Linked DNA regions of Homo sapiens. The protein of the gene in region 3 interacts with the protein of the main gene of each other region in a biochemical or structural test. Each region holds a gene or a part of one and is shown on either strand. Other genes may lie near its edges.

What was found.
Region 1: of the proteins of UBA1 (region 3) and UBE2L3, one has a biochemical effect on the other in vitro, tested with the Homo sapiens proteins (24 studies listed by BioGRID, with this or other methods).
Region 2: of the proteins of UBA1 (region 3) and UBE2D1, one has a biochemical effect on the other in vitro, tested with the Homo sapiens proteins (8 studies listed by BioGRID, with this or other methods).
Region 4: of the proteins of UBA1 (region 3) and UBE2R2, one has a biochemical effect on the other in vitro, tested with the Homo sapiens proteins (5 studies listed by BioGRID, with this or other methods).

What each region holds. Positions count from the first base shown.
Region 1 is NC_000022.11:21,570,681-21,577,713, forward strand, and holds part of UBE2L3 (ubiquitin-conjugating enzyme E2 L3), read left to right. Parts: intron 1-7,033. UniProt on the Homo sapiens protein: Ubiquitin-conjugating enzyme E2 that specifically acts with HECT-type and RBR family E3 ubiquitin-protein ligases.
Region 2 is NC_000010.11:58,337,973-58,345,005, forward strand, and holds part of UBE2D1 (ubiquitin-conjugating enzyme E2 D1), read left to right. Parts: intron 1-7,033.
Region 3 is NC_000023.11:47,210,796-47,215,628, forward strand, and holds the end of UBA1 (ubiquitin-like modifier-activating enzyme 1), read left to right. Parts: intron 1-46; coding exon 47-121; intron 122-240; coding exon 241-430; intron 431-1,628; coding exon 1,629-1,717; intron 1,718-1,975; coding exon 1,976-2,068; intron 2,069-2,194; coding exon 2,195-2,386; intron 2,387-3,531; coding exon 3,532-3,633; intron 3,634-3,741; coding exon 3,742-3,842; intron 3,843-3,998; coding exon 3,999-4,134; 3' UTR 4,135-4,333; downstream 4,334-4,833. UniProt on the Homo sapiens protein: Catalyzes the first step in ubiquitin conjugation to mark cellular proteins for degradation through the ubiquitin-proteasome system.
Region 4 is NC_000009.12:33,820,143-33,827,175, forward strand, and holds part of UBE2R2 (ubiquitin-conjugating enzyme E2 R2), read left to right. Parts: intron 1-7,033. UniProt on the Homo sapiens protein: E2 ubiquitin-conjugating enzyme that accepts ubiquitin from an E1 ubiquitin-activating protein, and catalyzes its covalent attachment to other proteins by an E3 ubiquitin-protein ligase complex.

The DNA.
Region 1 (7,033 bases), on a different chromosome or scaffold from region 3:
TGAGAATCAATGTTTAAGACTGTTTTTTTTTTCTTTTAAAGGAAGAAAAATTATTGATACAAGTTGATAAACAGTCTTTTCAGTACATAGGGTGGTAATAAAGTGATTTTCGTTGGTGAAAAGTTGGGGCTTAGTGCATGGAACAGTGCCTTAGGCATAGCAATCTAGCAAATGTTGAATGATCAAATTAATTACATCTTAAAGAACTTTAGATTTCTGTTAAAAATGTTTTCTAGGACATTCCACAGCAAAGATTTCTTTGTAACAATGGACTGTCTGCAGATAGTGTAAAACACATTATTAAAAGTAGAGTGATTTACATATACTACACTGAGAAGTTATTTTAGGCAAAGTGAGTATGATAAAGTCTTTTATTTCAAAAGCACTTGCCAGGAGGCTTAACCTCTTTTAGAAGCCTTTTTAGGAATTACAGTGTTAATAAAACATTAAGTACATTTTAATTTGCAAGCAGCTAATTTAGCATTGTTGGCTACAACCAGATTGTAACCATTGCTTCAATCAGGATGGGGAAATTGCTGCAAAAGCCAAAAGTGAAACCTTTATGTGTGGCTTAGGCAACTGATTGCCATCTGATCATTTCTTTGCAGCTTCACACTGCACACATTTCCCCTAAGGGCCCTCCTGTTGAGTAGCTTCCCAGAAGGGCTTTTCTCAGAGGGGAAATCTGTGGATTTAGAGGGGTGTGTGTGTAATGTCTTATTACTTATCATGACATAACTGTTGAGTTAAGGAGTTTCACTCTTGTTGCCCAGGCTTCAGCGCGATGGCACGATCTCTGTGCACTACAACCTCTGCCTCCCAGGTTCAAGCGATTCTCCTGCCTCAGCCTCCCAAGTAGCTGATACTATAGGTGTGCACCACCACTCCCTGCTAATTTTGTATTAGAAAGGAGGTTTCACCATGTTTGCCATGCTGGTCTCTAACTCCTAACCTCAGGTGATCTGCCCGCCGAGGCCTCCCGAAGTGCTGGGATTACAGGTGTGAGCCACTGCGCCCAGCCTAATGCTATTTAAAAATGTTCACTCAGAACTTCATATTGTTATATTTTCTCCCAGTTCATAGTCATAGTAGGAGGAACCTCTAAAAGTTCATTCCTTGGGTTTCGTTGTATTAAGCAGTGAGGTAGTTTGCTTTTGAGTATAGGTTTAGATTCTGAGGTTGGGTGATTAAGGAGATAGAGCAATGAGTATGTCACATGTTTCAGGAGGTGAGGGGAGTTTTATATGTGATGTTATGCCAGTGTAAATGTCCTGAATCCACTGAGGCTTTGTGAATTGAGAAAAACGTTGCGTCTTTTTTTCTAAATTCATGCATTCCAGTAAGTTGGGACTGTTTCAGCCTCCCTTAATGGTATTCTTTGTAAATGTTTGGGACAGGTGATGGGAAGGAGTATACTCAATTATTGCAACATTTGGGACCTTTTAAGGTATTTACTAGAAAACTCTGAGGCAGGCCAGGCGTGGTGACTCACACCTGTAATCCCAGCTCTTTGGGAGGCCGAGGTGGGCGGATCATGAGGTCAGGAGTTCGAGACCAGCCTGGCCAACATAGTGAAACCCCCGTCTCTACTAAAAATCCAAAAAATTAGCTGGGCGTGGTGGTGGGTGCCTGTAATCCCAGCTACTCGGGAGGCTGAGGCAGGAGAATTGCTTGAACCCGGGAGGCAGAGGTTGCGGTGAGCCAAGATTGTGTCATTGCATTCCAGTGCGAGACTCCGTCTCAAAAAAAAAAAAAAAAAAAGAAAACCCTGAGACAAAAACTCTTGTCTCAGGGTACTGGGGCCTTTTCTGATCTTGTTAAAACTCTAAATTAGGAGACTGTTGCTTTAAAATTTTATTATAAGAGGACACTTGAAAGTATTCTCATTTTATTGGAACATTTATTACGTTTAAGATATTTCTATATTCTTTGCTACAGCAGTAAATGTGAGAGCCACATTTCTTTGCAGCTTCACACTGCACACACACTGCACACACTGTGCACATTAGAGAGCCACAGAGACGTTCCTCCTGAGCCAGACTCCAACCACTTCCAGAGTTTTCTTGGGAACGGCACATAGATCTGTAGGCATCTGAGTCTTAGCTCCTCCTGTGACTCTCTCCCTCTGGCCCCATGCATCTCCTCCTGTCCCACCTTAGTTAATGGTTCACTTGTCTACTCAGTTGCTCAAGGAAAAAACGCCAGCGGAGCCCTTCTCGGCTCTTCCTCCCTTGTCTAGTCACCTGGCGGATTCTGCTGAACTATGCCTTCAGTCTCTCTTCTCTGCCTGTCTTCTCTCCATCCCCACTCCCACTCCCAATGCCACTGCCACTCCCACTGCCTCAGTTCAGGCCATCCCTGTTTGTGGTAGACACCTGCATCGAGCTCCTTAATGGTTCATCTAAACTCCTTACTGGTCAGCGCACTCTCTGTCCCACACTACTCCTAACCAGCAGTGCATCAGAGTAGTGTATGGTGTGGTGTGCAGTAGAGAAGTGCACATGAGCAGGCCCTGCTCTCAGAGATTGGAGCAGAATTTAGTAGGGTGAGGATGAGGCTGGGACTCTGGATTACAAGTGCACATTCCTTAGCTTTTTCCTTCAAGGTCTTGTCTCACCAGCCTTGTCTCTCCCCACTTGCCCGTTGAGTCCCCTAAAAACAGCATGCTTTGCACACACACTCTGGATCTCGTGATTGGCATCCCTGTCTCTTCTCTGTACCAGGGTAACTTTTTGACCTTTGAGACTCAGCTCAAGGGGCAATTCCTCTGCCCTTGAGGAGCTCAACAAAGGAGAAAAATGGCACGTACCTGGAACAAAGAAATCCTGGGCTGGCCACTGTGTGCTAGATGTCTGCCACCTGAATAATGGCTTGCAGGAGAGGGAAAGACCCCCTCTGACACTGAGGAGGAGGTCGAACTTGGCCTGGCCCTTTAAGCACGAGTAGGGTTTCAGCAGTTGAAGAAGACGGACTGGGTGGCCAGTGAGGTTGAGTCTCTCTCATCCCTCAGGAGGGCTGTGGGCAGTGCCTATGGGAAATGCTTTGAGGAGCCCCAGAGACCATCTGCCTACTCCCCAGTGCTGCTTGCGTCTGACCTTGTGCCGTCCCGCTTTGGGTTTTAGTTAGGCCAGCCCCTGAGATGCTTTCCAGAAGTGTTGAGGCATTGGCTTGATTTTACCCCAGATTGGCATGTCCAGTGCACCTGGTTCCTCCAGAGCTAGGAGACCTCCCTCTGCCAGGCCAGCCTTGGAGGGTGAGCTACCTCTCTATAGAGGGGTCACTGAGGGCAGTGCTGATGGATTTAAGGACAGGTGGCAGAGATGCCATAGCCTTTAGGTTGAGGGGCCAGATCTACATATCTCCTGGATGCTACAGCTATCCAGGAGAAGTGGCATGCCACTCACTCAGAAAGGGCTTTGCATGTATCTCCTGTGGCCAGCTTCATCATGCCTGTTCTTGGGGGACATAAATAAGCCTAACCTCCCCAAGCCCCCCACCCCTATAAGAAAGGGAGGAAGGGGCTTTTGCTCAGAGCAAAGCTGTTTAGAGGAAGACTACAGCATAGCAGTTAAAAGCTCAGGTTCTGGAGTTTCAATCCTGGGCCTGCCATGTCTTAGCTGAGTGACCCTGGGCAAGTTACTTTACCTCTCTGTGCCTTAGTTACTTCGTCCGTGTGTGAAGGTTAAATGAGTTAATATATACCAACTGCTTAGAAGAGTGCCTGGCATATAGTAAGTGTGAGCTACTTGTAGATATTATTGGGAATAACCAAGACATGTTCCAGGGCAGGGAGGTGACCAGCCTGACAGGAGGGGAGGATTTGGAGGAGTGATAGGAGATGGTATTGCAAAGGTGTTTTCGGGACAGGTTGGGGCCAGTCTGCCTGGACATACCCTCATCACTGAGAGCCCATTCTCTTACCTGTGGTACTCTCTTATTCTGTAGGTTGGAGAAAGAGTTACTGAGACAGCTGTGTGAATGTTTGTTTAAAAATGTTGGCTGGGGGCCAGGCGCGGTGGCTCATGCCTGTAATCCTAGCACCTTGGGAGGCCGAGGTGGGCGGATCATGAGGTCAGGAGATTGAGACAATCCTGGCCAACATGGTGAAAACCCATCTCTACCAAAAATACAAAAATTAACCAGGCCTGGTGGTGCGTGCCTGTAATCCCAGCTACTAGGGAGGGGGAGGCAGAAGAATTGCTTGAACCTGAGAGGCAGAGGTTGCAGCGAGCTGAGATCGTGCCACTGCACTCCAGCCTGGGTGACAGAGTGAGACTCTGTCTCAAAAAATGTTGGCTTGGCGCAGTAGCTCACACCTGTAATCCCAGCACTTTGGGAGGCTAAGGCAGGTGGATCACTTGAGGTCAGGAGTTCGAGACCAGCCTGGTCAACATGGTGAAACCCCGTCTCTACTAGAATCACAAAAAAATTAGCTGGGTGTGGTGGCATGTGCCTGTAATCCCAGCTACTCGGGAGGCTGAGGCAGGAGAATTGCTTGAACCCAGGAGGCAGAGGTTGCAGTGAGCCAAGATCATGCCACTGCACTCTGGCCTGGGCAACAGAGTAAGACTCCATCTCAAAAAAAAAAAAAAAAAAAGAAAAGGAAAAAGAAAAATGTTTACTTGGCTGGGCGTGGTGGCTCATATCCGAATCCCAGCACTTTGAGAGGTCAAGGCGGGTGGATCACTTGAGGAGACCAGCATGGGAAACATGACGAAACCCCATCTCTACTAAAAAAAAAAAAAAAAAAATACAAAAATCAGCCGAGTGTGGTGGTGCATGCCTGTAATCCCAGCTACTCTGGAGGCTGAGGCAGGAGAATCGCTTGAATCCGGGAGGCGGAGGTTGCAGTGAGCTGAGATGGTGCCACTGCGCTCCAGCCTGGGTGATAGAGCGAGACTCTCGAAAGAAAAAAGAGAAAAGTTTACTTTTCCCAACAAAGTTGAATAGCTTTTTTTTTTTTTTTTTTTTTTTTTTTTGGAGACGGAGTCTCACTCTGTCACCCAGGCTGGAGTGCAGTGGCACCATCTCAGCTCACTGCAACCTCTGCCTCCCATGTTCAAGCCATTCCTCCTGCCTCAGCCTCCCGAGTAGCTGGAACTACAGATATGCGCCACCATACCCGGCTGATTTTTGTATTTTTAGTAGAGACGGGGTTTCTCCATTTCCCAGGCTGGTCTCGAACTCCTGCCCTCAGGCGATCCACCCACCTTAGCCTCCCAAAGGATTACAGGCGTGAGCCACTGTGCCCAGCTTAAAATTGAATAGCTCTTGAACTCAAAATTTGTCTTTCTAATATCTCAGAAATTTACCTTGCATATTGTAAACATCCAGTGTAGTGTGACAGTCACTGTGTCCAAAGATGAGCATAGGTGCTATGGAAGGCTCCCACAGGTGCTGAACTGGGGCAGGGGTGGAGGTTTGAAAGCAACTTTTTTTTTTTTTTTTTTTTGAGGCGGAGTCTCGCTCTTTCACCCAGGCTGGAGTACAATGGTGTGATCTTGGTTCACTGCAACCTCCGCCTCCCGGGTTCAAGCAATTCTTCTGCCTCAGCCTCCTGAGTAGCTGGGATTACAGGCGCACGCCACCACGCCTGGCTAATTTTTGCATTTTTGTTTTTTTTTGTTTTTTTTTTGAGATGGAATCTTGCTCTGGCGCCCATGCTGGAGTGCAGTGGTGCGATCTCGGCTCACTGCAAGCTCCACCTCCCAGGTTCACGCCATTCTTCTGCCTCAGCCTCCCGAGTAGCCAGGACTACAAGTGCCCGCCACCATGCCCAGCTAATTTTTTTGTATTTTTAGTAGAGACGGGGTTTCACCATGTTAGTCAGGATGGTCTCGATCTCCTGACCTTATGATCCTCCTGCCTCGGTCTCCCAAAGTGCTGGGATTACAGGCGTGAGCCACCATGCCCGGCCCCCAATTTTTGTATTTTTAGTAGAGCTGGGGTTTCACCATGTTGGTTAGGCTGGTCTCAAACTCCTGACCTTGTGATCCGCCCACCTCGGCCTCCCAAAATTCTAGGATTACAGATGTGAGCCACTGCGCCTGGCCGAAAGCAACTCTTGATTGAGAAGTTGAGGTCTCAGATGTAATATTCTTGCTTCTTGTCTTCTCTTTCCTTTTTTTTTTTTTTTTTTTTGAGACGCAGTCTCGCTCTGTCGCCCAAGCTGGAGTGCAGTGGCACGATCTTGGCTCACTGCAACCTTCACCTCTGGGTTCAAGCAATTCTCCCTGCCTCAGCCTCCTGAGTAGCTGGAATTACAGGCGTGTGCCACCATGCCTGGCTAATTTTTTTTTTTTTTTTGAGATGGAGTCTCGCTGTGTTGCCCAGGCTGGAGTGCAGTGGTACAGTCTTGGCTCACTGAAAGCTCCGCCTCCTGGGTTCACGCCATTCTCCTGCTTCACCCTCTCGAGTAGCTGGGACTACAGGCGCTCGCCACTACACCCAGCTAATCTTTTGTATTTTTAGTAGAAACGGGGTTTCACCATGTTAGCCAGGATGGTCTCGATCTCCTGACTTCATGATCCACCCACCTTGGCCTCCCGAAGTGCTGGTATTACAGGCGTGAGCCACCGTGCCTGGCCTGATTTTTGCATTTTTTAGTAGAGACGGGGTTTCATGGTGTTGGCCAGGCTGGTCGTGAACTCCTAACCTCAGGTGATCCGCCTGCCTCAGCCTCCCAAATAGCTGGGATTACAGGCGTGAGCTACCGCACCCAGCCCTTGTCTTCTCTTTCAACCTTGAAGCAGAAAGTTAAGAAAGTTGCTTCTGGTGGCTGTGTAGTTTCTCCTTCTGACCCTTGCTGCACACATACTCTAGAATTCCAGAGCTGTGTGAGGGATCTTGGAAAGCAGACACCAGTGGCCTCTGTTTACAGATGAGGAGGCTGAAGTCAGTGGTGGAGCCAGGCCCAACATCAAGGTCCCCTGCTCTCTGGGCCTTGCTCCTGCTTTTTAGATGGTTGCTTTTGGTCTTGAGGAAGGGACAAGATGGAGAAGAAGAGGGTTCATTTCAGATTCGGTGGCTGTTT
Region 2 (7,033 bases), on a different chromosome or scaffold from region 3:
AGTAGCTGGGACTACAGGCGCATGCTGCCATGCCCCGCTGATTTTTTGTATTTTAGTAGAGATGGGGTTTCACCGTGTTGCCTAGGCTGGTCTCGAACTCCTGAGCTCAGGCAATCCACCTACCTCGGCCTCCCAAGGTGCTAGGATTATAGGTGTGAGCCACCACACCCGGCCAATAATCTCTTAATTGGCTTGGCTATTTGAGAGTGTTAAAAAGTTCATGATTTCACATTTCTTCACTATGAAAAAGAATAAAGATGATTGGATTAAAATTATATGTAAAGACAGAGCATGGAGATATCAATGCTTAAAATATATTTTTATAGTAGAATAAACTAACTATACTAGAATATACTAAATGATTTAATGCTCTGATTTAGTGTGCCAGTTTTGCATTCCAGCTCATAAATTTACACACCCATGCCCTATTTTTAAATAACAGTGAAAGATGTTATCGCAGTCACCTAAATCATTAAAAGAAAAAAAGTTTGAACAAAGTCTAAGGAAAGATACCTAAAACATGTCTGAAAAGAGGAGGACAGTTTTTCACCTAGGTATCTATTTTCTAGAAGTAATTTCTAAGTTGTTTCTTCTATCAATACTATTTTCATTACTTGAAACACTTTTTTTGGGGAGGATTATTTTTTAAATTACAGGTGTTAATATCCCAATACCAAATGTTTTGAAAACTAAAGGGCAAAAAAAAGGAAATCCTAAAACAGTCATTGTCATCATCATAGATTTTATTTGATAAAGAATTTGAGGTAATGAACATCATACTAGCATTATGTGATGTGATGTGATGTGATGTGATAAGTTTATTTACATTTTTGTCTTTTGAAAAGTGAGGCAATAGAGTTCCGTTTTACAAACATAGCAACTCAGAGAACTATTCCTTAGTGTGTAATTCTGGCCCCCAAATGGAACATTAGTTGTTTTTGTTTTTTAATAATCAATGTAATCTGAAACATATATAGAGAGACATAGATTAAAATCAAATTTGATAAATGTTTGAGCTGCTGAATTTTTTTGATTTGTAGAATTTTATGTTAAACTGTTTATGTCAGTCTAGAAAACTTTAGGATACTTAACCCAGCCCTCTATGGACGGAGCATCAAATGGAAGAAGGAGGTCTGAGTTTTTTTTGTTTTTAGACAGGGTCTCACTTTGTCACCCAGGCTGGAATGCGGTGGCACAATCTCGGTTTTCTGTGACCTCTGCCTCTGAGGCTCAAGTGACCCTCCCACCTCAGCCTCCTGAGTAGCTGGGACTACAGGCCTGCATCACCACACCTGGCTAATTTTTGTATTTTCAGTAGAGATGGGTTTTCACCATGTTGGCCAGGCTAGTCTCGAACTCCTGACCTCAGGTGATCCACCCGCCTCAGCCTCCCAAAGTGCTGGGATTACAGGCGTGAACCACCTCACGCAGCCAAAGGTCTGGTTTTTATTCCTGGCTGTGTGGCTTACTAGCTTCGTACAATGAGGCTAGTACATATTTTCCATACATTTCCATACAATGGATATGTATGGATATCCATACATATGAGGCTGCTGATCTCAAAAACCAGGGTGTTTGTAATCGTTACTCTGCCTTCTAAGTACTTGACATATATTAATTGACTTAATTCTTAGTATACCCAAGAGGTAGAAACAGTGTTATTTCCATTTTACAGATGATGATACTAAGGCAGGGAAATATTGAGTAGTTTACTCATGATCACATTATCTAGTAAGTGACAATGCTACGATTCCAAAACAAACAGTTGGCTTCAATTCCACATTCCTTTTTTTTTTTTTCAGTCTTAGAATCTTTTATTTAATACCTTCTCATGCCCAGTTAACACAAAAATAGTTGCAGTTACATATCGCTACTGAAAGCTACCAAACTGCCTATCTGAAGAGAGAGTCAAGGATCCTTCTCTTCCACTTCTTAGGAGAGAATGATAGTTTTTGGATGTTGAAGAGAGCATTCACTGAGATTACTGAACTCACCAGATATACTATAAAGCTTTCTGTCTAATGTAGCCAGTAGCCACATGGAAACAAATTGGGTATGAAAATTTAGTTTTCAACCTTGAGCTTTATGAAATCTAAATATAGATCAAATATTGCTGACGAAAATTTAGTATCCAAATTGAGATGTGCTGAAGTGTAAAATATGTACTGGAATTTGAAGACCTAGTATACAAATCTAAATAATTGTTACTAATGAGATATTTATAAACATTTTTATATTGATTAAATTTTGAAATGATGACATTTTGGATAAGCCACCTAGTCAGGCTAAGACTCATTTTCTTTCTCTGTAAAATGAAGGAGTAAACGATATCAGAGTACTACTTGCCTTATTCTGTCTTTACATTCAGGTTCTAGAAACCAGACCATGGGCAGAGCATTTTCCTCCTTGTTCAGCAGAGCAAATTTGTGGGCTTTTAAAGATGGTAACATTGTTTCTTAAATCACTTTCCATAATTTAATATCAGTAATCTGTTTATAGAAGAGAACAGCCACATTCCCTGACAAAGTTTTGTATGACTTTACTTTTTATTTTGCTTTTAAGCTTGGCTGTAATATTATTACTGAACCTGTGACACTTCACTTAAAATGTCAAATCCTTTAGTGGAGAGAGTGTTATTTCCTTGTCTTAATCTTTTTATATGCCAATGATTGTGCCCCCTAGGATAGCAAATAAAATCTGTCAATAAACTGACTGAACAATGCTATCCAATAGAAATACAATGTGAGCTACATTTTAATTTTAAATTTCCTAGTAGCCACGTTTTTAAAACGGGAAGTAGAAGCAAGCAAAATTAAATTTAATGTGTCTTATGTAATTCCATATTCTTAACCACTTCAGTACATAGCTTCTCTTATCCACATGAACTCGTATCTATTGTACTTAAACTGGAAGACATAGAGTCAAATGGGTTTATGGGATATAAGTGCTTTGCAAACTGGAATGTTCTATACAAATGTAAAGTGGTGTTATAATTAAGACCTTGGCATATTTGATCATTTTCACTGACACATTGCTCAAATGTGTTGATTGTGCTTCGCAAATCTCTGCTCCAAAGTAACACATGCTGAGATCGTTTAACATTGTAAATCAGTAATATAACTTTGATCATCTTTGTTTCATCACTTTGAATTTCTCTCCTCCAAAAGGATTTTGAAACATTGGTTGTAGTTCATAAATGCTCTGTCAAAAGTATCATTGCATTGTGAAGTTTTTATTTGAGATAACTTTTTGAATTGACAGAGTCATTTAGTTCCTGTAGTGGTTTTGAGTAGTAAACTGTTCATATTATGAGATTAAATCCAAGACTCCAGTTCTTTCTAGAAAGAATGATACAACTTAAAGAAGCACGGTATTTATGCATTTTGGGATAAATGGTTTTCCTTGAGATGAGAGCGAGATAGTGTTCTTTCTCTAATAAGCCACGATGTAAATTTTTTTTTAAATCTTTGTAATTAAGCTCAGTCTTTCTTTTGTCCTTGATACTGTATTTTTCTTTCTTCATCGCAATAGAGGTATAAAAAAATGAGGTAACCTATGACAGTTAAAAAGTTCTGAGATTTCTTCTCTGTGGAAATAAATAGCCTAGAACTAAATAAAGCTGTTTATGCCTATTTTAAGAAGCCAGGCACATATGAAAACCAAACCTAGCAGGATGTGGGATTGCCTCCAGGAAAGCAAAATAGCGTCCTTACTCGCTTTAGTTCCCTGAAATACGCATAGAAAACATATGGGCCCTTTATTTTCATTTAATGAGTGCTACTAATAGAAATGATAAACCTAATATTTAGCCATAAAACTGAGTTAATGGTCATCTACTAATGTAATAGTCCCTGCCTTTTTAATAGTGAATAAACTGATTACATTGAATTAACAACAGGAATTGAGATACTTATCCTCTCTCCTCTCCTGTGAAATGCTGGAATAAATGATACTAGAATATATAATATGACCATATTTGCAGTTTGGGAATTGGAGGGGTAGGTCCTCAGGCCACCTTAGCACATGTGTCTGAAGGCAGGACAGGTTTTATTTCTGGCCCATCTTGGTCTTGATGGTCTCTGAGAAGCTAAGGTTTTTCTGTGCTTAATTTGGTTCTGAGATGAATCTGTGAAGGTTCAGTTTCACACATTAGACAATAACAGGCTGTTGTGTTCCAGGATTGTCCTTAGTATGGGGAGGAAGCTGCTATCTAGAAGCATACAGTCTAGTGCTGTCCATTCCACCATCATGCTCTGCATCCTCTTGTCTTACCTCTTTCTGGATGTATTTCCCACTGTCCTCTATTCATATGGTCCCGTTTGTATGGCTCATCTCTTTTAGTGACACCACAGTTCTTATTTAGATTCCTGGGTTTTTTTTCAGACTTAAGAAACTTCTCCAGTGGGGGTGAGCTGAGGAGTTGGTTCCTTCACCTTAAGCTTCCTCAGATAATAATCTGATTGTTCTCATTCTAGGTGGCCACCCTCCTTATGCGAGCAGAGTTTGGGAGTAGTATGGTTGGATTGTCTAGAGAAAACCAAGTGGACCTAACAAATGGTCTGGGTTCATTTTTCTTCTCTTCTCTTAAACCAGGAAATCTCTGGCTTGTGTTTTTGCTTCTCCCAAATTTTGCTGTATTTTGTTTTCACTTAAATTTAAAGATATTTTCTAGTTTTCCTTTTTATCTCTTCTTTGACCCTTGGATTATTTAGAAATACGTTATTTATTTGCCATATGTTTGGAGATTTTACAGATAGCTTTCTGTTGTTGATTTCTAATTCCATTATGGTCAGAGAACAAATTCTATTATTATTTGACTCCTTTTAAATTGTGGGTACTTGTTTTTTTTGGTTTTTTTTTTGTTTTTTTTTTTTTGAGATGAAGTTTGCTCTTGTCGCCCAGGCTGGAGTACAGTGGCGCGATCTCGGCTCACTGCAACCTCTGCTTCCTGGGTTCAAGCAATTCTCCTGCCTCAGTCTCCCAAGTAGCTGGGATTACAGGCGCCCACCACCACACCCAGCTAATTTTTTGTATTTTTAGTAGAGACAAGGTTTCACCATGTTGGTCAGGCTGGTCTTAAACTTCTGACCTCAGGTGATCCACCTGCCTTAGCCTCCCAAGTGGGGACTTGTTTTATGACCCAGCCTTTTCAGGTGCTCAACAGCACTTTTGAATGAATGATGGTTAATAGTTTGTAGACTTCATTTTGGTATTTTCCAGTTGGTATCTATTGACTGTAGGTTATTTCTAAGAAATGGATGCCAAACTAAGGTGTACACCTTCCCAGTATCTTTTTTTTTCTCTTTTATGAGTTTCCAAACAGTTTAGTGAATAATAAACATCCACTTTTTAAAATGGAATAGAAAATATTAGTGCTTTGCATATAGTAAGGGTGTTGTTTCATGAAATTTGTTTTAGTGTGTGTGTGTGTACTAGGTTGTAATGTAAAATCTTTTTCATATTATAAATTGCTGTAAGGAAAGCTGGAAAATCACTGTTCCATAACATAAGATCCTTAGGTAAAATTAATGTTAAAAATACATGCCATACAACCATACATATACATGTATACATATATAGGGAGAGCAAATGAATACATATACACATACACAGAGACACACAAATATATTGATACACATATACACATAATGTAAACTGTTCTAGCCTTGGAAACGTTTGCATTTGATACAGACCGTATGCATTGTTTTCTTCTACAAGTAGCAGCATTTTAGTGACTGATGTACAACCATAATATTCAAGAATAATACTGGATGATACTAACAGAGAGTAGAGAATTTATTATGAAACACTCAAGTGCCCACTATATGCCAGTTATTAGGTATAGAGCTGTAAGAAGCAATATTTAATAACAAATATTTGGTAGGTATTGGTAGGCATGTTCATGTTTTACACACGTTTTAATAAATAGGCAGCTAGGTTTTCTCTCTTTTTTCTTCCATCTTTTTTTGGTTACTGTAAAGTAAATAGTAAGTTTTGATAATGGAGCACTCAAAATGCTCCATTTGCATATTTTATGTGAAAATTCTATTTATTTAAGTTGTGTATAATTTCCTGTAAAGTTTTTCTTGACTCTCAGAGTGTCTTTAAACACAACGCTCCTGAAAGCTTATGAAATAGTATTCGTTTCTAACCTTTTATATGATATAAGCTCCTGAGAAAAGATAAGAATTCCTTCTCATTCCTTCACTTATCACACTTTTGTTTCTCTGGAGCATAGCTAAAAATGTGCAAATGGCCTTAATACAGTACTGGAGCATTGTTTGCTTCAGTGTTGGTTGAAAATAATGTGCTCTAGCTGTTACAGTGTTGAGGTGAGTATTGAATTGGGGTGGGAAGAGTGCTGGAGTAGAAGTCAGATGGTCTGTCCCTTTGTCCTAGTTTGGCTTTGTGACCTTGGCCAGGAGACTCAGTCTTTATACTCCTCACTTGGAAACTTAATGGATTGAACTTGATACTTTCTGTCATCTCTTCTGAATCATAATTTTAGGCAAACCTAAATAATGTATTTGCTGTTTTTTTTTTTGCAGCAAACAACAGTGATCACAAAAACAAACACTGAGCTTTGGCACTGTGCTATGGAGCTATATTAGACTTGACTTAAAATTCCATTTACTTTGAAATATCAGATTTGAAATAAATGTTGACATCTCTTAATGTATAAGGTCAATAAATCTTATTCTCTAACTAAAGAGCAATTATTTATGATGCAAATAAAATGTATTTCTATTATTGCACTGGTAACATAACGTGGTTCTCTAATTCCATTTAGCTTTTCTCTATTTGTTAGCTTTTGTACTTAAGATTGTTTTATCCACATATTTAGACAACTGCCATACACAGCTGCACAGCTGCCTTATAGGTAATAGTTTTTTTGTTTTTTTTTTTTTTAATGACAAAGTCTGGCTCTGTCACCCAGGCTGGACTGCAGTGGCATGATCTCAGCTCACTGCAACCTCCACCTCCTGCGTTTAGGGGATTCTCATGTCTCAGCCCCCTGAGTAGCTGGGTCTAC
Region 3 (4,833 bases):
GCCTTCACTCTCAGGTCCTGTTCTCAAAAATCTCTCCATCCCTTAGCTCACAAGCTCAGGAGCGCCGTTCTGGTCTGGGCCCAAACGCTGTCCACACCCGCTCACCTTTGATGTCAACAATGTAAGTCTCCTTTCTAGGGTCTTCTGGGGTCAGGTGGAGGGTGAATAGGTGGGAAGGAGGTGGCGGCTCCCCACTCGAGGGCTGATGTGCTCACCCTTCCCTGCCCTGCCTTCTCCTAGCCCCTGCATCTGGACTATGTGATGGCTGCTGCCAACCTGTTTGCCCAGACCTACGGGCTGACAGGCTCTCAGGACCGAGCTGCTGTGGCCACATTCCTGCAGTCTGTGCAGGTCCCCGAATTCACCCCCAAGTCTGGCGTCAAGATCCATGTTTCTGACCAGGAGCTGCAGAGCGCCAATGCCTCTGTTGGTGAGGGTGTTTGGCCAGTTGGCCAGGAGTCACCCCACATGTCCCCGGCCTAGTCCAGCCTCCCCACCAGTCCTCTACCCCTGGTTCTGCTCTGCTCTGTGACCCCAGGCCTGAGGTTTACCCACACCTTCCTTTGAGCCTCCCTTTGACATGAAGAGGGTAGGTTGGGGCAAATTATCTCCCTCCCTCCTCCTCCTTCCCACTATCTGGCCCTCAGGAGAACTTGCTGTTTTACTCTTGCTCTGTGTATTTCCCTTAGTTTTGTTCTTTCTTCTGTTTCTTCTTGATCTGTTCATCTAGGAGGTATGATCTCTACCAGCAGTCTCTCTCCCTTGATACTTTCCTGCCTTGTCTCCTTCCAGATCCGCCCCCATCTGTACATCTACCTGCATGTTTCTCTGTGCATCTTCACCCTCCATAGTTTGGGGCTGCGGTTTACTGACACCCCCACCCCACCCCATCTGCATATTTTTTCACCACCCCTCCCTTCTGTATATGATGCTTCTGTAGCTCTGTAACGCCCCCTACATTTACCTTCCTTATATCTCCCCCGTCTTCCTCTCCATAGATCTCCTCCCATTTCCCCTTCCATGGTCCCCATCTTCCTTCTGAAATGTCTACTCCTTCATGTTCCTTTATGTATGTCTTCCAATCTTTCCTTCCATAGCTCTCATCACCTTCATATATTTCTTCCATCTTTCTCCTCCCACCTGCCTCGCCCTCTGTATATACCCCCACTCTCCCCCTTTTATATCTTCTCCATCTCCCCCCATATCTTTCCTCTATGTCCACATCTGTGTATTCCCCCCAACTTCCCCTCCATATATCTTTTTTACTCCCCTTTTCCTCCCTGTATCCTCTGTGTTCCCCCCATCTTGCTCTACATCATTCTTCCCAAGATCTTTACGTCTCCCATCTTGATCTCTCCATCTCCACTTTCTCCTAACATTTTCATTTCCGTTCCTTAGTGTCTCTAGAGAGATCATTCTTGATAGCCTCAGCTCTTTCTCTGTGTTTTTCAGGTTTGTATTCTGCTCTGCTCTACCTCTCCTCCTTGCCCCTTTTCTCTCCCAGGATGTCTCTCCTTTCCAAATCCTTTTTGTACCTGAATACCTTTTGCCCCACCCTGGGCTCTCATTTCCATCTCAGACCTTAGCCTGGGATCTAAAGGGCTGACAGTGTCCCTTTCTTCATGCAGATGACAGTCGTCTAGAGGAGCTCAAAGCCACTCTGCCCAGCCCAGACAAGCTCCCTGGATTCAAGATGTACCCCATTGACTTTGAGAAGGTATGGGGTGGGGCTCAGGACAGGGAAGGAGGATGGGCAAAGCATAGACAGGCTGGAGAAAACAGGAGTATCTGGAGCCAGCCCCGGGCCTTTGTGGGGATCAGATTGTGGGCCTGCCATATGGCTCTGAATGAGTAGGTGTTCCCAGCCATCCCTTTGTGATCTGGGAGAGTCCAGCAGGCAATTGCAGTGGAGGATACACATCTTCTTTATCTGATCCTCTCCCCACTGCCTTCACACCCTCCCCACTCATAACAGGATGATGACAGCAACTTTCATATGGATTTCATCGTGGCTGCATCCAACCTCCGGGCAGAAAACTATGACATTCCTTCTGCAGACCGGCACAAGGTGAGGGGAATCTAAATCTGATGTTCCACCCTCCTCCAGGTTTGAGTTACCCACACTTAGCCCCTCTGTAGACCCTGAGGCTCTTGTACTTAACTACCACCTTCTTTTGTCCCTTCTGTCTCTCAGAGCAAGCTGATTGCAGGGAAGATCATCCCAGCCATTGCCACGACCACAGCAGCCGTGGTTGGCCTTGTGTGTCTGGAGCTGTACAAGGTTGTGCAGGGGCACCGACAGCTTGACTCCTACAAGAATGGTTTCCTCAACTTGGCCCTGCCTTTCTTTGGTTTCTCTGAACCCCTTGCCGCACCACGTCACCAGGTGGGGGCCTGCATCCGAAGCAGGGTTTGGGTGGGGTGTATCTGTGTAGATCTGGTTCTGATTCACGTCATACCCTGTCACCAGGTGAGGGTTTCTGTCTGTGTACCTACCCTTTTTGTGTATCCTTTTTCACTTATTCATTAATCACATTATTTGAGTACGTGCGAAAAGATGGGATATTTGAATTGTGCCCTGGGAGATTATTAGTAACTACACAATAATGGCAGCCAAAATTTATTGGACGCTTCCTACACTTAAGTGCTTTGCTTGCTTCATTAATGAATTCACTCAAATATTTATTGAGCACCTTTTGTGTGCAGGGACTCTTCTAAGTTATGTTCCTCAAGTAGATTATATAAATAACCTATTAAATGATTTTGGAATCAAAAAAGGATAAAAAGAGGCCGGGCGTGGTGGCTTACGCCTGTAATCCCAGCACTTTGGGAGGCCGAGGCACGTGGTTCACCTGAAGTCAGGAGTTTGAGACCAGCCTGGCCAACATGATGAAACCCTGTCTCTACTAAAAATACAAAAAATTAGCCAGGCGTAGTGGTAGGCACCTGTAATCCCAGCTACTCGGGAGGCTGAGGCAAGAGAATCACTTGAACCCGGGAGGCGGAGGTTGCAGTGAGCCAAGATGGCGCCATTGCACTCCCGCCTGGGTGACAGAGCGAGACTGCATCTCAAAAAAAAAAAAAGATAAAGAGGACTTGAGAATACCAGGGGGCGAGGGGATGTATTTGAGATTTTGTGTAGGATGGTCAGAAAAGGCCTTGCTGAAAAGATGACATTTGAGATCAGACTTGGAGGATGTAAGGGGACAAACTGTGCAGGCTTGGTGGCGAGTGGGGACACATTCCAGGCAGAGGGACCAGTTCTTGAAAGGGTACCAAGATAGGGGTGTGCCTGGCAAGTTGGAGGAATTCAAAGTCCCCAGAGTGAGTGTGAGATTGAGGAGGGTAGGAGATGAGAAGAAAACAGAATTTCATTGCTTAGGGTGAGATAGGAACCACAAGAGGATTTCGAACAAAAGAGGGTTGTGATCTGACTAAACACGTCTGCATGGGGGTAGGGGGGATGGAGACAGATGGGGGCTGGACCCTCTGGGATGGTCTCCATCTTACACTCCCCTCTTTGTCTTGCAGTACTATAACCAAGAGTGGACATTGTGGGATCGCTTTGAGGTACAAGGGCTGCAGCCTAATGGTGAGGAGATGACCCTCAAACAGTTCCTCGACTATTTTAAGGTAAGGCCCCTCCCTTACTCTGTCACCCCACCTCAGGGGGCGAGGTGTACACGGTGACTTGCTGGCCTGTCCACCTCCATGACCCTGCTGTTCCCCCTCCCTCTCCAGACAGAGCACAAATTAGAGATCACCATGCTGTCCCAGGGCGTGTCCATGCTCTATTCCTTCTTCATGCCAGCTGCCAAGCTCAAGGAACGGTTGGATCAGCCGTGAGTTGGACACTGGCCAGGCTAGGGGAGGCCCTGTATGGGTTGGGGAGCCTCATCATCCAGCTGTCCCACTCCAGTTCACTGCCCCTACCTACCTGCCCATCCTCTCTTGCTTTCTGCCCTCCTGACCCTATACTCCCATCCCCCTATCCCCAGGATGACAGAGATTGTGAGCCGTGTGTCGAAGCGAAAGCTGGGCCGCCACGTGCGGGCGCTGGTGCTTGAGCTGTGCTGTAACGACGAGAGCGGCGAGGATGTCGAGGTTCCCTATGTCCGATACACCATCCGCTGACCCCGTCTGCTCCTCTAGGCTGGCCCCTTGTCCACCCCTCTCCACACCCCTTCCAGCCCAGGGTTCCCATTTGGCTTCTGGCAGTGGCCCAACTAGCCAAGTCTGGTGTTCCCTCATCATCCCCCTACCTGAACCCCTCTTGCCACTGCCTTCTACCTTGTTTGAAACCTGAATCCTAATAAAGAATTAATAACTCCCACATCGCCTGCCCTGCTGGTTCCAGGGAAGGAAGGGACTTCCTGGAGCTGTCTGGTTCAGATGATAACTCAGAGGGCTCAACCCCACCACACCTGCCAGTTTTCTGGACAAAGAAAATGTAATTGCCACCTCTTCCTGCCCTCTCTGCCTAGGAAGAGATGGAGGCACCAGTGAGGCCATAGTGAGCAGGTACTTGGGTCCATGTGACTGTTAATTTGAGCTGGGTTCAATTCTCACCTTCTCCATGTCCTAACTCCTTGCTCTGTGAAGAGGAAAGTTACGGTGACCAGGCTGCTAGGGCATGGCCAGCGTGCCTTATGTCCTTAGGGCAGATCCCCTCCCACCTGGCTCAAAGCACTCAGACCCTGGGCAGCCTTTTGTGGTCATGGTTCCCAGCACCAGGAATGCCTGTGCTGCTCTTAGTTCAATTTCCTTGCTGCAGGGGTGTCTTAAACAGCTCTGCCGAATGCCAGTGCCTGCAGGCATACTTCGTGATTTTTA
Region 4 (7,033 bases), on a different chromosome or scaffold from region 3:
AAATAATGGGTTGCAAGTTGTAATATTTGTGCATAAGTCTGGGAAAGGAGTGTGGAGAACCCTCTCTGAAATAGGAAGTATGGAAGGATTCCTTGTGTTAATACACTGATTTAAATTAAATGCTTCTGAACTTCAGTCCTTGTTTAAAAGAATGATTTAATCTCGTGCTTTGTGATGTTAGATTTCTTAAGCTTTGAGTGTTTTTACCTTTAATTCTGACATGTATGAAAATTTGTAAACAGGTTTTATGGTTTAGTCTTGTGTGAGAAGTTTGTTCGATTGTATTTTCGACTACTTTTTCCCTTATATGGCCTTTTATCCCATTAGTTGTTCATTAGAAAAAGGCAAATTTATGGTCATGAGCAGTTGACACTGGGGATATGTTTAAAACCATTGTTTTTATTTTACTGCTTTTGTCTTAAGACAAGGCTTTTAGTGTATTTCACTACAGCTGCAGTTGAAAGTTGGCACAAAGCTTTCCCTACCATATCACTCTTCTCCCTTATTAAATGTTAGTCCTTGAACATTTAGTATAATTTATTTTCAAGTTAAACTCTTTTCCCTTTTTGGCATAGTCATTCGTGAAGGCAGTGGGACTGCCAGTCATTCTTTACATTTTTCATACTGTAATTCCTTTAACTTTTATATATTAATAGGTTTCTAACTGATCTTTTTCACCCTGAAATAGTTGGCTCTTGTCTCTTACCCACAGGATCTGCATTGGAGATTTGTGAGACCTGTATTTCACAGAATTTTTTTATTCATCCTGCTTTCGCTTATTTAATATCGCCAATCCACGTGATTCTTAGTTTTGGGCCATATAGATGTAGGATGGGCAAAGATAGTTTCTTCTGTCCATTCTGAATACTATACAATCTTTTTTGGCCTTACTATCTTTTTGTGTAGTTTCTTATTTTGCTACCTAAGCAAGTCGGAATTTTATTGTTACTAGAAAAATAAATTGTGGATCAAGTCAGTAGCTAATGAAGACTTTTAACAAGTTCACCCCCTTTCTTTTGAAAGGAACTTTTTCAGGGTCTTTCTCTGTCACTTAGTTTGGGGTACAGTGGTGTGATCATGGCTCACTGCAGCTTCCACATCCTAGGCTCAAGCAGTCCTCCCACCTCAGCCCCCTGAGTAGCTGGGACTACAGGCATGACTACGCCCGGCTAATTTTTTTTTCTTCAGTATTGTTAAGTGAGGTAGGGTCTCACTATTTTGTCCAGGCTGGTCTCAAACTCCTGGGTTCAAAGGATCCTCCTTTCTCAGCCACCCAAAGTGCTGGTTTTACAGGCGTCAGCCACCATGCCCGGCTGGAACTATCTTTTCAAATAACTCCTGCTAAGGATTGTAGCTTAGTGTGGGTGCTTTAGTACTGAACCTCCTTGGAACTTTTGCATTATTTATCTAAAGCATTATAGCAGTGAGTCTAGAGCCAGAAAGAGTGCCTCTTTTATGATATGCATAACAAAAAAAAATTTTTTTTTTTTTTGAGATGGAGTCTCACTCTTTTGCCAGGCTGGAGTGCAGTGGCACGATCTCAGCTCACTGCAACCTCTGCCTCCTGGGTTCAAGCGATTCTCTTGCCTCAGCCTCCCGAGTAGCTGGGATTACCGGCGTGCGCCATGAAACCTGGCTAATTCTTTTTGTATTTTTAGTAGAGACAGGGTTTCACCATGTTGGCCAGGCTGGTCTTGAACCCCTGACCTTAAGTGATCTGCCCATCTCAGCCTCCCAAAATGTAATCCTAATTAGAGGCCTGAGCCACCACTCCTGGCCAACCTTTTATAGTTTTGATTTTATTAAATAATTTGATTGAGGTAATGAAATATAGATGTGTTCCATTTTTAGAAAACTCCAGTCTGATAATTTAGAAAGTATTTGTTGTATACTTAAAGTTTTCCTTATTAGGAACATCTTTATTAGACTCAACACTGACATATATATATATATATTTTTTTTTTTTGAGACTGAGTTTTGCTCTTATTGCCCAGGCTGGAGTGCAGTGGAGCGATCTCGGCTCACTGCAACCTCCGCCTCCTGGGTTCAAGCGATTCTTCTGCCTCAGCCTCCTGAGTAGCTGGGATTACAGGCATGCGCCACCATGCCCAGCTAATTCTGTATTTTTGGTAGAGACGAGGTTTCTCCATGTTGGTTAGGCTGGTCTCAAACTCCTGACCTCAGGTGATCCCGCTCACCTCAGCCTCCCAAAGTGCTGGGATTACAGGCCTGAGCCACCACACCTGGCCTACACTGACTTACATTAAAGAAACTCTTCAAAACCTTTTTTTTTTTTTTTTAAGAGATAGGGTCTCACTTTGTTGCCCAGGCTGGAGTGCAGTGGTGTGATCATAGCTCACTGCAGCCTGAAACACTTGGGCTCAAGGGATCCTCTTGCCTCACCCTCCTGAGTAGCTGGGACTGCAGGTGCATACCACACTCGTTTTAATTTAAAAAAAAAATTGTTTATGCAGAAAGGGTCTCATAGGCCAGGCTGGTCTCGAACTCCTGGCTTCAAACAATCCTCCCACCTTGGCCTCCCAAAGTGCTGGTGTTACAGATGTGAGCTACCACACCCAGCCAAATAATTTTTTTTTTAATAAGAGAATATGCATTATTTCCTATGCTTCATTTGTTTTGCAATGAATGAATCTATTTTCTGCCTTCCCTCTTCCCCCTAAAAAAACAAACCAGACTTAGCCTAGATCTGGCAATGTCATTTAGATATTTTATTTCTTTTTTTTCTTTTTCTTCTTCTTATTAATTTTTTTTTTTTTTTTTTAGCTGAGTCTCGCTCTGTTGCTCAGGCTGGACTGCAGTGGTGTGATTTCGGCTCACTGCAACCTTTACCTCCTGTGTTCAAGCAGTTCTCGTGCCTCAGCCTCCCAAGTAGCTGGGATTACAGGCGTGCACCACCATGCCTGGCTAATTTTTGTAATTTTTAGTAGAGATGGGGTTTTGCCATGTTGGCCAGGCTGGTCTTGAACTCCTGGCCTCAAGTGATCTGCCCACCTTGGCCTCCCAAAGTGCTGGGATTACAGATGTGAGCCAGTGTGCCCAGCCTATTATTATTATTTTAGAGACAGAGTCTCGCTATGTTGTCCAGGCTTGTCTTGAACTCCTGGGCTCAAGTAATCCTCCCGCCTCAGCCTCCCAAAGCACTGCGATTATAGGTCTGAACCATTGCACCCAGCCTATTTTATGACTCTTTAATTGGTAAAATATAGTTGAAAAAAAATTTTTTTTTTTCCTAGATGGAGTCTTGCTCTGTTGCGCAGGCTGAAGTGCAGTGGCGCGATCTTGGCTCACTGCAACCTCTGCCTCCCGGGTTCAAGCAGTTCTCCTGCCTTAGCCTCCCAAGTAGCTGGGATTACAGGTGCGTGCCAGCACGCCCGGTTAATTTTTGTATTTTTAGTGGAAACGGGGTTTCACCATGTTGTCCAGGCTGGTCTCAAACTCCTGACCTCAGATGATCTACCCGCCTTGGCCTCCCAAAGTGCTGGGATTACAGGCATGAGCCACCGCGCCTGGCTGAAAAAATTTTTTTAGGAAAATGATTGTTTGCCTTTTTGAGACAGGGATTCTTTTGAGAAATTGAAGAATTTTCTCAGAGAAAATGGGTACACGTAAACTAATTTTATGTATCTTTTTCAGAGGGTTTACTGCCGATGAGCTAAGAATCCTCTTGTAAGGTATTTGGATAGGCAACTTAAAGACAATTTTAAACAGCTCCTTTAAAATTATAAAACGAATGCTCTTTTATTCCCCCATTTCTCTCAGTTAACTTTGAAACTACCTCTTAGGGCATTTAGCTGTCTCTTTCTGGAAGATGAAGTTGTCTTGAGTACTGGGTGAACTAAGGTAACGTTATAAATGGAAACACAGTTAAGGTCTAAGGGTTTTGGAAACTAAATGAAGTTTCACTTTTTGTTGTTTCTCAGAACATTTTTCAAACCAAATATGATGCCTTAGTTTTTCATAGAATATGCTTTTATCCTGTTTAGTTGATTACAAGATGCATATTTTTCTACCTTTTAACTTCTTTTTGATTAAGAAATTTCTTAGATGGCCAGGTGTGGTGGCTCATTCCTGTAATCCCAGGACTTTGGGAGGCCGAGGCGGGTGGATCACCTGATGTCAGGAGTTCAAGACCAGCCTGGCCAACATGGTGAAACCCGGTCTCCACTAAAAATACACAAATTAGCTGGTGTGGGCCGGGCGCGGTAGCTCATGCCTGTAATCCTAGCACTTTGGGAGGCCGAGGCGGGCGGATCACGAGGTCAGGAGATGGAGATCATCCTGGCTAACGTGGTGAAACCCCATCTCTACTAAAAAAATACAAAAAAATTAGCCAGGCATGGTGGTAGGCACATGTAGTCCCAGCTACTTGGGAGGCTGAGGCAGGAGAATGGCGTGAACCCGGGAGGCGGAGCTTGCAGTGAACTGATATCGAGGCACTGCTCTCTAGCCTGGGCGAGAGAGCGAGGCTCTGTCTCAAAAAAAAAAAAAAAATTAGCGGGTGTGATGGTCCGCACCTGCAGTCCCAGCTACTTGGGAGGCTGAGGCAGGAGAATTGCTTGAACCCAAGAGGTGGAGGCTGCAGTGAGCCTAGATCATGCCAGTGTACTCCAGCCTGGGCAACAGAGTGAAGCTCTGTCTCAAAAAAAAAAAAAAAAAAAATTCTTGGAATCCATGAAGTCTTGTAATTGCCATCAGCCAAGTGGTACTTATAACCTAGTTGTGAGAGACCATTTCATTGAAATCTTTTGGTAAATTTTTTTTTAAATACCAGTTTCAATGTCATAGATTTGCTAAAATAAGGATTATTTCTTCCTGGATTGAAGGATTTAGGTCCTAATTAATACTCTGCGTTGATTCTCCTTTTTTCACCTTTTGTGTCAGGAAAAATTTTTATTGAGGACTCATTAAAGGAAAAGCAAATTGTAGGAAAAGTCACTTCCTTAAAGATAGTAAGTGAAAGTATTAGGACAATGATAACCTTAGAGCTTTTAAGAATGATCGGCCAGGCGGTCGCCTGTAATCCCAGCACTTTGGGAGGCAAACAACAAAAACAAAAAGAATGATCTTCATAAAAGCAAAGCTTTTTTTTTTTTTTTTTTTGAGACAGAGTCTCTGTTACCCAAGCTGGAGTGCAGTGGTACAATCTTGGCTCACTGCAGCCTCCATCTCCTGGGTCCAAGCAATTCTCCTCCTCAGCTTCCCGAGTAGCTGGGGCTACAGGCGTGTGCCACCATGCCAGACTAATTTTTGTATTTTTAGTAGAGATGGGGTTTCACCATGTTGGTCAGGGTGGTCTCAAACTCCTGACCTCAGGTAATCCACCCACCTCGGCCTCCCAAAGTGCTGGGATTACAGGCATGAGCCACCACACCTGTCCAAAAGCAAAGCTTTTAAAGCTTTAAGGCTAGTTAGACCATTTTTCAACATAATGATAAAATGTTCTGTTCCATCTTTCCAACTTAATGGTCAGTTGGAGACACGTGAGAGAAAGGAGACCATCCAGCAAATTAGGCTACCTCTGATAATCTAGTTATGGAAAAATAACAGTGAGGAAAAGGTATAAATTCAGAGTTTAGGACTACAGATTTCCATCTTGCTTAAAGATTATATTGAAAAGGTTTAATTCTTTTATGTTTCTGAACTTCTTTTGAACTGCTTCACATACGACTACAGAGATATCTGAGTTGGTTGGATGCAGTGGCTCATGCCTGCTCACACCTGTAATCCCAGCACTTTTGGGAGGCGGAGGTGGGCAGATCACTTGAGGTCAGGAGTTCAAGACCAGCATAGCCAATATGGTGAAACCCCATCTCTACTAAAAATACAAAAAGTAGCCGGGTGTGGTGGCATGCGCCTGTAGTCCCAGCTACTTGGGAGGCTGAGGCAGGAGAATCGCTTGAACCCAGGAGGTGCAGGTTTGCGGTGAGCCAAAATCTTGTGCCACTGCACTCCAGCCTGAGCAACAGAATGGGACTCTGTCTCAAAAAAAAAAAAAAAAATCCTACAGAGATTCCTGAGTAAAATTTAACCTCTTTGATTGTGTTAATATCAACTTTATTCAGCAAGAAATTGTTATTCAGAGATTATGCTTATGTACCTCAAAATTAGTTGACTCTGAAGTGAATGGAATGATAGATACTAAGTTGAAGAGGTAAATTTAGTTCACATCACCAAGGTTTGATGTTACTTAAATGATCTTCCACATGATAATTGGAAAATTCAGGTGTTGGAATATGTATTTAAGATGCAAAGTGGCTAGGAGTGGTGGCTCACGCCTGTAACCCCAGCACTTTGGGAGGCCGAGGCAGGCGGATCACGAGGCCAGGAGATTGAGACCATTCTGGCTAACACGGTCAAACCCCGTCTCTACTAAAACTACAAAAAATTAGCAGGGCATGGTGGCACGTGCCTGTAGTTCCAGCTACCCGGGAGGCTGAGGCAGGAGAATGGCTTGAATCCAGAGGCGGAGAGGTTGCAGTGAGCTGAGATCACGCCATTGCACTCCAGTCTGGGCAACAGAGTGAGACTCTGTCCCCTGCCGCCCCCTCCAAAAAAAAAGAAAAGTGAATAGTCCACTTTAAACACCTTTATTTGATTTAGTAACAAATACATATAAAAATGTTTTGGTTATTGGGTGGGTGCAGTGGCTCACGATTATAATTTTTACCCAGCACTTTGGGAGGCAGAGGTGGGCAGATCACCTGAGCTCGGAAGTTCGAGACCAGCCTGGACAGCGTGGTGAAACCCCACATCTACTGAAAATCCAAAAATTAGCCAGGCATGATGTCGTGAACCTGTAGTCCCAGCTATCCGAGAGGCTGAAGCAGGAGAATCTCTTGAACCCAGGCCAATCGCTTGAACCCAGGAAGCGGAGGCTGCAGTGAGCCGAGATCGCGCCACTGCGCTCCAGCCTGGGCGACAGTGAGACTCTGCCTCAAAAAAAAATAAAAAGGTTTTGGTTATTGTCTTATTATTATTATTATTTTTTGACGCTGTTCGAATAAAAAAAAAT